2 separate regions of the Homo sapiens genome follow, and region 1 is linked to region 2. The links come from fine-mapping of genetic effects on gene expression. A gene starts in region 2. The other region holds a variant in brackets. All regions are shown on one strand. Distances are from middle to middle. Region 1 overlaps TSNAX-DISC1 (TSNAX-DISC1 readthrough (NMD candidate)). Region 2 holds the start of DISC1 (DISC1 scaffold protein).

What was found. PIP is the estimated chance that this variant, and not a neighbour inherited with it, causes the effect.
Region 1: its variant is fine-mapped to the expression of DISC1 in whole blood (TOPMed, PIP 0.98).

What each region holds. Positions count from the first base shown.
Region 1 is chr1:231,602,836-231,608,364 of GRCh38, reverse strand. The region is part of intron 4 of TSNAX-DISC1 (TSNAX-DISC1 readthrough (NMD candidate)); the gene reads right to left. All of the region lies in intron 1 of LINC00582 (long intergenic non-protein coding RNA 582), which reads left to right. Among named protein-coding and RNA genes, the nearest start is that of LINC00582, 6.5 kb to the left of the region's middle. The variant G/T (reference allele first, on the strand shown) is at 3,196.
Region 2 is chr1:231,624,138-231,629,137 of GRCh38, reverse strand. DISC1 (DISC1 scaffold protein) reads right to left here and starts at 2,348. Exons shown (of 13, transcript NM_018662.3): 1 at 2,204-2,348. The coding sequence starts at 2,270. The region is part of intron 5 of TSNAX-DISC1 (TSNAX-DISC1 readthrough (NMD candidate)); the gene reads right to left. RefSeq lists silencers at 629-829, 1,803-1,862, 2,193-2,452.

The DNA of each region.
Region 1 (5,529 bases), 21 kb after region 2:
ACTAAAATACAAAAAATTAGCTGGGTGTGGCAGTGTGCGCCTGTAGTCTGAGCTTCTCTGGAGGCTGAGGCAGGAGAATTGCTTGAACCCAGGAGGCGGAGGTTGCAGTGAGCCAAGATTGTGCCACTGCACTCCAGCCTGGGCGATAGAGCGAGACTTTGTCTGAAAAAAAAAAAAAAAAAAAAAAAAAAAAAAGAATGAGCAAAGATTTCATGACAAAGACACCAAAAGCAATCGCAACAAAGGCAAAAATTGACAAGTGGTATCTAATTAAACTTAAGAGCTTCTGCACAGCAAGAGAATCTACCAACAGAGTAAACAGACAACATACACAATGGGAAAAAATACTGGCAAACTATGCATCTGACAACGGTCTAATATCCAGCATCTATAAGGAACTTAAATTTGCAAGAGAAAAACAAACAACCCCGTTAAAAAGTGGGCAAAGGACATGAACAGACACTTTTCAAAAGAAAACATACATGCGGCCAACAAGCATATGAAAGAAAGCTCAATACCACTAATCATTAGAGAAATGCAAATTCAAACCACAGTGAGATACCACCTCACACCAGTTAGAATGGTTATTATTAAAAAGTCAGAAAATAACAGATGCTGCTAGGCTGCAGAGAAAAGGGAACATTTATACACTGTTGGTGGGAGTGTCAATTAGTTCAACCATTATGGAAAGAAGTATGGCGATTCCTCAAAGAGCTAAAAGCAGAACTACCATTTGACCCAGCAATCCCATTACTGGGTGTATACCCAGAGGAATATAAATCATTCTACCATAAAGACACATGCACGCGAATGTTCACTGCAACACTATTCACAATAGCAAATACATGGAATCAACCTGAATGACCATCAATGACAGATTGAATAAAGCAAATGTGGTACATACACACCGTGGAATACTAAGCAGCCGTAAAAACGAACAAGATCATGTCTTTTGCAGGAACATGGATGGAGCTAGAGGTCATTGTCCTTAGTAAAGTCACACAGGAACAGAAAACCAAATACCACATGTTGTCACTTATAAGCAGGAGCTAAATGACAAGAACTTATGAACACAAAGAAGGAAACAACAGACACTGGTGTCTACTTGAGGGTGGAGGGTGGGTGGGGGGAGAGGAGCAGAAAAGATAACTATTGGGTACTGGGCTTAATACCTGGGTGATCAAATAATCTGTACAACAAAACCCTGTGACATGAGTTTACCTATGTAACGAACTTTTACATGTAACCCTGAACCTAAAATAAAAGTTTAAAAAAAATGGAAAAGAGGGTAGTCATTACCGGGGTAGGCAGAGGGAGGAAAAAGCCCTTAAGAGAAAGATCAGCAAGCTAAGGAAGAGGAGGAGGTGTGCAGGCTGGGAGTTGAGCCCCACTGCCCTCCTCCTTTATAGGGCAGCAGCAGGATGCAGGAGAGATATCAGCCTCCCAAGCATCACTTCTCAGGAATGCAGTGGAGCTAGCCCTGCTAACTGCAATACTATGACAGGGATTCTGAAAGGGCATTCCTCTTATAATTAAATACCTAGGTACTGGGAGGCAAATAAAAATCATAATAAAAGCCAACAGTAATGAGTTTACCGGCCAGACACGGTGGTTTATATTTTAATCCCCGCATTTCAGGAAACCAAGATGAGGCGGGAGGATCGCTTGAGCCCAGGAGTTTGAGACAAGCCTGGGCAACATAACGAGACTCTGCCAAAAAATTAAAATCAACGAAACTAGCCAGGTATGGTGCCAGCACCTGTAGTCCCAGCTACTCGGGAGGCTGAGATGGGAGGATCACTTGAGCCCAGGAGTTCGAGGCTGCAGTGAGCTGTGATAGCACCACTGCACTCCTGCCTAGGAGACAGAGTGAGACCCTGTCTCGAAAAAATTTTTAAACATTTTTTAAAATTAAGAGCTTATCTATTGTCTGTTACCATTATGCCAAGGGCTTTACTTTGACCATTTTTTTCAGTTCTCAAAAGAATGCTACAGATTTAGTAGTGATGCAATTACCCCCATTTCACAAATGGGGAAACTGAAGCTTTAAAGAGGTTAAATACCATGCCTATGTCTAGGATGTAAGCAATGGAGCTGGACATCTTGGGGACTCCAGGACCTATGGTCCTAACCATGGTTCTTGGGATGGCTTACTGCCTCCCAGGGTGAGCTGGAGTAACTGGAGTGAGTGGACCCAGACAGGACAATTAAGCATTCCTAAAAGTGGAGCATTTAGTACGTGCAGTGTCTTGGTGCAGCATGAAGGCCAGAGAAGATGCAATGAGATAGATTAGTGTCAGGTCCTAGTTGACTGAATGGCATTTTGATCCAATATTTTAAAAATCCCTGGATTCTGTTATAGGGGCTCCTCACTTTAAGGAAATCTGATATTCAAAATCCAAACTGAAGTAGGAATAACAGCTTGTTCATTGAGCAGCTACTGTGCACCTTGGCATCACACCAGGAGTTTTCTAAACATGACCTCACAACTGCACAATTCTGCCAGGCGAAATTATTAGCCATATTCCCAAGCCAGGCACTATGAGCTGAGTTGTGACTTCCAAAATTCAAGTGCTGAAGCCCTAAGCCCCAGTGCTTCTGAATGTGACCGTATTTAGAAATAGGATCTTTAAGGAGGCAATTGGGTTAAAATGAGGTCATTAAGGGTGGACCCTAATCTAATATGATTGATATTCGTATACGAAGAGGAGATGAGGCCACAGACACAGGACACAGACACACCCTGAGGGGTGACCACGTGAGGGCACATCAAGACAGCAGCTGCCTGCAAACCAAGAGAAGCAGTCTCATAGGAAACCAACCCAGCCAACACGTTGATCTCAGACTTCCAGCCTCCAGAACTGTGAGACAATACATTTCTGCTGTTTAAGCCACAGTCTGTGGTACTTTGCTATGGCAGTCCTAGCAAACTAATGCACCAAGGAATCGAGTCTGAAAGTCTAGTTTTTGTCCAAAATCACGAAGACTGTGTCAGAGCTAAAAATGCAGTCTGTGCTACTGCAAAACTTACACAACAGAAGGGCCCTCTCCTGTACCAGAAGGTTTGCTCCAGGCTTCTGAGTATCAGCTACACTGTTTCATCAAAACACAATTCATTTGACAAAAGCCACTTGCCCTTCTGGCAAAAGAGATCTCAAGCAAAGAAAATTCTACTGATTTCACTCATGCCCCCTT[G/T]TAGATGGTGATGTTTCTATAATGAAGCATTTAAAGATTCTGATCCCATGTCAGAAAATCTGGATGGACTGTTATATATGAGAGAAAAACTACGTTTGCATATCGATCAATGAATGAAAACAACCTGAGAAATGGAAACCATTTGATTTGGTGAAGTAGGAGCAAATGAAGTAAATTTTTAAGTAATGTTTATTTCCCATGTTATATAAGGTTATCTGAAAAACAAACATTTAAAATTTTTCCTTTTAAACTTTTTTCACATTCATATTTAATACACCTTTTGCACTAATTGCCAGAAATTAACACCCCTCAAAACGTGTGTGTGTGTGTGTGTGTGTGTGTGTGTATGTATATTTTAGATTGAGTCTCACTTTGTCGCCCAGGCTGGAGTGCAGTGGCGAGATCTCTGCTCACTGCAACCTCTGCCTCCCCAGTTCAAGCAATTCTCCTGCTTCAGCCCCCCGAATAGCTGGGATTACAGGCGTGCACCACCATCCCTGGCTAATTTTTTGTATTTTTAGTAGAGATGGGGTTTCACCATGTTGGCCAGGCTGGTCTCGAACTCCTGACCTCAGGTGATCTGCCAGCCTTGGCCTCCCAAAGTGCTAGGATTACAGGCATGAGCCACCTTGCCCGGCTCTATTTATATATTAAAAAGACCTTTATAAATTTAAAAACTTAAAATATATATTATAAAAGTATCATACACATGTGACAATAAAAATTCAAATAGAATTTTAAAAATTCAAATAGGACTGAAGGGAACAAACTAAAATATAAGTGGTTGCCCAAGAACCATCTTTAAGCATCTCTGGGTTTTAGTTCTTGCAATGATTACTTCTCTTTGTGACACTGTGTTATTTTGATCTTGACATTTTTAAAGAAAACATGGATTGACAGATACAAATGTCTTTGCATATGTCAAAATACTTTTAAAAATAAATAAAGGGGAAAAGAGCCTCTCAGAAATGGCCACTAGGTGGTAGAAGTTGACTAAAAACTGCTTTATTCGGTAGAGCCATCTCGATTGCTGCCCGCGACTTTTTTCCTCTAGGGAGAAGGGATTTCTTCAGGGTCTTCTCCTGAGATATCCAACATCTCCTCCTCGAGCCCCTTTGCTTAGAATGCCCTGTAGCCATTTTAGACTGCACACAAATGGAGATAACACAAGCAACTTCTCACCTTCCAGAGGGCAGGACAAGATGAAGAAGGAAGATCTTCAAAAGTGAAAGGTTAAGAAAGACAAGTACACACCCATACACACACCAGTCCTACCAAGGCAATGGTGACAGCAGGAAGAGATGGCTGCTCTTCCTCCAGAGCAGCTGTGATGCAGACCCACCTGTCACCCAAGAAGGAGAAAAGTGAACAACAGCTTCTGCCCTAGTGGAGCCTGAATTAACTCATAAGTCGAAATCCCCAGAATCTCTTTGCGCTTTGGTCTGTGCTATTGTACTTAACACACGCTCAATAAAGACTTATTGATTTGACTTAATCTCAAAACCACATTTCTAAAGCACCAAAGGACTATCTTTTGATTCATTAGATGTTTCTTGAGCTCACACAAGTGCCTAAACAACAGGGGAAAAGGTCGTAAAGATAAATAAAATAAAAGCCTTCTGTATTTTTTTTTTTTTTTTTTTTTTTTTTTGAGACGGAGTCTCACTCTGTCACCCAAGCTGGAGTGCGGTGGCGCAATCTCGGCTCGCTGCAAGCTCCGCCTCCCGGGTTCACGCCATTCTCCTGCTTCAGCCTCCCGAGTAGCTGGGACTACAGGAGCCCGCCACCACGCCCGGCTAATTTTTTGTATTTTTAATAGAGACAGGGTTTCACCGTGTTAGCCAGGATGGTCTCGATCTCCTGACCTCCTGATCCGCCCGCCTCGGCCTCCCAAAGTGCTGGGATTACAGGCGTGAGTCACCACGCCCGGCCAGGCTTCTGTATATTTTTCTATATGGCCAAAATGTTTAATGATTCTAAAAACTGAGAACAAACACAAGCAAACAAGTCAAAGGAAGAAAATGTTTAAATAAGAAAAATAAATGGGCCGGGCGTGGTGGCTCACGCCTTTATCCCAGCACTTTGAGAGGCCGAGATGGTCGGACTGCTTGAGGTCAGGAGTGCTTGAGGAGGTCAGCCTGGCCAACATGGTGGAACCCCTGTCTCTACTAAAAATACAAAAATTAGCTGGGCATGATTAGCACCTGTAATCCCAGTTACTCAGGAGGCTGAGGCAGGAGAATCGCTTGCACCCGGGAGGCGGAGCCTGGGTGACAGAGCTAGACTTCGTCTCAAAAAAAAAAAAAGAAAAGAAAAGAAAAGAAAAATAAATAT
Region 2 (5,000 bases):
TATAAAATAAGTCTGAGGGAAATTAAAATTATGCCAAAGCCTCTTTTGCCAGGATTAACAGTTCACTCTTACATTTTGGGTCTATAGATATGCAGGATGGAGGTTGGGCCTGGTGGCTCATGCCTGTAATCCTAGCGCTTTGGGAGGCCAAAGTGGGAGGAATGATTGAAGCCAGGAGGTCGAGACCAGCCTGAGCAACATAGCAAGACTCCAACTCTAAAAAAAAAAATTAGCTGGGCATGGTGGCATGCGCCTGTAATCCCAACTACTCAAAAAGCTGGAACAGGAGGATCTCTTGAGCCCAGGAGTTCAAGGCTACAGTGAGCCATGATTGTGCCACTGCACTCCATCCTGGGTGACAGAGCAAGACTCTGTCTCCTAAAGAAAAAAAAATTACCTAAATTCTAATATAGGTCTGTTCTGAATCACAGCTCCACTCTATAAGTTCAGTTTGGCAAGCGGCCAAGAACACAGTTGTGAGTGGCACCCACACCAGGGTTCTAATCCTGGCTTTACACTTAAGAGCTCTGTGAGCTTGGGAACCAAGCAGGGTGACCCTGAACCTCAGCTTTGTCATAGGGAAATGAGGACTGTAATCCCAGTCCCATAAAGATGCAGGGAGGATTTCATCAAAGGAATTCATAATAAAATGTCTGGCACATTGTAAGTTCTAAAAACCTGCAGATGTTACCATTCCCTCCTAGTACTATCATGTCTTATATGTGCATAGTGACTCATACTCCACAAGGTGCTTTCAGATCTTTTGCCTCATTTAATCCTCAGGCAATGCGATCAGTACAAAAGGCAGTAATTACTACCCCCATTTTTCTTTTATCTTTTTTGTAAACAGATGAGAAAACAGGCTCAAAGTCAAAGAGCCCGAAAAGCGGGTATCTTGTCCACGGTTCTTTTTGCTCTGTGGCACAGAACTGAACCTCAGAGGACTTCATGTACCATGCCGAGCACAGGAGAACTACATGTGTTTTTAAATGCCCTACTATTCCTGCATTAATCAAATCAAACTGGTATTCTCACATTACTCCCAATTATTTAGATTTTGCCTAGGAAAAATAGCAACTAAGGTTTTTTGAGAGTGCACTGGGTATTTCAGGCATTGGGCGAGGTGCTTCACTTCCACCATCACAGTTAAACCGCATAACAACCCTATGAAGCAGGTACTGTCATAGTCTCCTGCATGTCCAGGATTGACATGCAGGCAGACTGTCTCCAAACCCCAGTTCCTATGGTCCTAGTGCTGTCCAATTCAAATTTGTCCAGTTGATGATAACACTTTGCAAATTGATTTCCCATACAACAAACCTAACGACACATGGAGGCCAGGCTATGAGTGTTCTCCTTTACATTTCAGGAGACTGAGGCTCTGAGAGGTTAAGCGACTGACCCAGCCCTGTCCTCACCCAGCAAGAACACAAGGCAGCACTCCCTAACTCCAAATCTCACTGTCTTTGGAAAACCTCACATTTTAAGAGTGAGAAGGTAGAAGTCCTGTCATTGTTGAAAAACAACCATCCACAATCATCACTAAGAGTTGACAGCGAGACCCGCGCTCCAGGCGGTGGAAACCGAGCAGTCTCCGGCTTGGGCCATCCCCGTTACTGTAGCCAAGTAGGAAGTGGGCGGTGACACTGATTTCAGAGCAGCCCCTAGGGAAGGCACAGGCACCAGTTCCTGGTCCCGCTCCCAGCCTCCTCCCTCCAGGTCCCCGAAGGGGTGGAACCCGAGATCCAGCTGGGTCTTGGGGTTAAGGCGGGCGGGACGTCCCCTGTCCCGAGGGGGCGCAGGCTGGGGCGCACCGCAACGAGAGTGCAGGCGGCGCAGGTGTCCCAGGACGGGGACGGATCCAAACCCCAAGCACGCCTCTGCAACCTTTCCCGGTCACCTGGACACGCAGCGGGGGCGCGGGTCAGACTCCTACAGTTTCGCAAACTGCGGGTCCCGGGGATCGCTGCACAGTCCTGGGTCAGGGACCTGGCCCGGCTCGGCGCTGGTGCCGGGCTGGCAGCCCAAGACTCGCTCTTCTCTCAACCTCGCACGCCTCGCGTCCTGCCTCAGTTTCCCTCACCTCGAAAGGGGTTGTTAACAGAGGCACGCCCTGACCTACGCGACTTCCTGGGGGCCAGAGCGCGCCCTCCTTGCCAGGACCCCCCCAGGACGTGCTAGGACTCTGTGGCAGCTCCCCTACCTGCGCGGTGGCTCACGCCGCCGCCGCCGGCGGCGGCTGGGGCGCCCTGAGGACCCCCGCCTGGCATGCGCCCCGCTGCCAGCTCCTCCCGCTCCGCCTGGGCTGCCTCCTGCTCCTTCCCCGAGGCCAGAGGCGGGGGGAAGGGAGCAGCGCGCTGGACGGGAAGTGGGGAGGGGGCTGGCGACGAAGGGGGCGGCTCCTTTCTTCTCCTCAGCGAGTCCGCTGTTTCCTTTCCAGCATTGGCCCCTGACGCGCGCGCGCGCGCGCACACACACACACACAGACATACACACACACGCTGCTGGAGCGGGCGGGGCCAGCGGCCCTCACAGCCTGTCTCCGGGATCTCAGGACCTCAGAAAGTTTGCTTTCACTCTGACTCATTTCTGGAAGAAACAAGAGGGGAAGTGCAGGAAGCCTCCAGGATGGGGTACAGGAGGGCGCCTTCCAGACGCATGATTTAAGAAGTGACCACACAGTGATGGAGAAGATGGAGGGATGTGAGGGGCTCATTTATACAAAGTGGGGGCGGGGGGGAGGAGTGGGGATAACTGATGACCCTGGAAAGAGATGAGTGGGAGCAGATGTTTAGAAATGAGATAGGATTCCAACTTCTAGCATCTTCCAGCAGCTCCGGGCTGGTTCCAGGACACAGAAGTCCATGCAAGCTCCTAGGCAACTGACTCCCCCCTTCACCCCTTCTCTTTGGTTCATTCAAGGAAGCTACTGGAGCACCCCCTAGGTAGCACCTGCTATAGGACAATGGGTACAAGGAAGGGCTACACATGAGCTCTTTGCCCTTAAGCAGCTCACCTCCAGGCTAGAAGGAGAGCACGTGCATAGAAAACGAAATCACAACATGAGATAGAATGTGCCATGTGCCAGAGGCTTGGCACAAAACCTCTTGCAATGGTTCAGGGATAGGAGGGAGAACTGTGAAGAAGAAGGGTTGGGGAGACGTTCTGCAGGAATGGGAAGGATCTCCTTAGAACGAGAGGAGTTAGAACTAGAGGAAGGCTGAGGTCCTTCAAAAGCTGAAGATCTTAAGACTGAAAGCACACAGTTGTACTTAAAATCAGTGTGTTTGCCCGGCATGGTAGTGCACTCCTGTAGTCCCAGCTACTCGGCAGGCTTAGGTGGGAGGATTGCTTGAGTCCAGGAGTTCAAGGCTTCAGTGAGCTATGATGGGGCCACTGCACTCCAGCCCAGGTGACAGAGAGAGACCCCCCACACCCCCACCACATCTCTAAAAATAAATAAATGTATGAATATCTAAGGCCAGGCACTTTGGGAGGCCAAGGTGGAAGTTCACTTGAGTCCAGAAGTTTGAGATCAGCCTGGGCAACATAATAAGAACCTCTTTTTTTTTTTTAACTTTTAAGTTCAGTTTGTTACATAGGTAAACTTGTGTCATGGGTGTTTGTTGTACAGAGTATTTTGTCACCCAGGTATTAAGCCTAGTGCTCATTAGTTGTTTTTCTTGATCCTCGCCCTTCTCCTACCCTCCGCCCTCCAAAAGGCACCAGTGTGTGCTGTTCCCCTCTATGCGTCCATGTGTTCTCATCATTTATCTCCCACTTATAAGTGAGAACATGCAGTGTTTGGTTTTCTGTTCTTGTGTTAGTTTGCTAAGAATAATGGCCTCCAGCTCCATCCATGTCCCTGCAAAAGACATGATCTCATTCTTTTTTATGGCTGCATAGTATTCTATGGTATATATGTACCATATTTTTTTATCCAGCCTATCATTGATGGGCATTTAGATTGATTCCATATATTTGCCGTTGTGAATAGTGCTGCAGTGAACATGTGTGTGCATGTGTCTTTATAATAGAATTATTTATATTCCTTTGGGTGTATACCCAGTCATACGATTGTTGGGTCAAACAATATTTCTGTCTTTGGGTCTTTGAGGAATCACCACACTGTCTTCCACAATAGCTGAACTAATTTACACTCCCACCAACAGTGTAAAAGTGTTCCTTTTTCTCCACAACTTCTCCAGCATCTGTTATTTTTTGACTTTTTAGTAATACCCATTCTGACCGGTGTTAGGTGGTATTTCATTGTGGTTTTGATTTGCATTTATCTGATAATCAGTGATGTTGAGCTTTTTTTATATGAATGTTGTCCACATATATGTCTTCTTTTGAAAAGTGTCTGTTCATGTCCCTTGCTCACTTTTTAATGGGGTTGTTTGGTTTTTTCTTGTAAATATAAGTTCCTTATAAGATGCTGGATATTAGATCTTTGTTAGATCACAGTTTGCAAAATTGTTTTCCCATTCTGTAGGTTGTCTGTTTACTCTGTTGATAGTTTCTTTTGCTGTTCAGAAGCTCTTTAGTTTAATTAGATCCCAGTTGTCAATTTTTGCTTTTGGCATCTTTGTCGTGAAATCTTTGCCCATGCCTATGTCCTGAATGGTATTGCCTAGGTTGTCTTGCAGGGATTTTATAGTTTTGGGTTTTACAATTAAGTCTTTAATACATCTTTAGTTAACTTTGTATAAACTGTAAGGTAGAGGTCCAGTTTCAATCTTCTGCATATGACTAGCCAGTTATCCCATCACCATTTAGGAAATTCTTTACCCATTGCTTGTCAAAACCCTTTCTATAAAGAAAAAAAAAATTAATTAGCCAGCACAGTGGCCTGTACCTGTAGTCCCAGCTACTTGGGAGGCTGAAGCAGGAGGATCACTCTAGCTCAGGAGGTCGAGGCTGCACTGAGCAGTGATTGCACCACTTCCCTCCAGCCTAATAGAGTGAGACCAGGCTAATAGAGTGAGACCCTGCCTAAA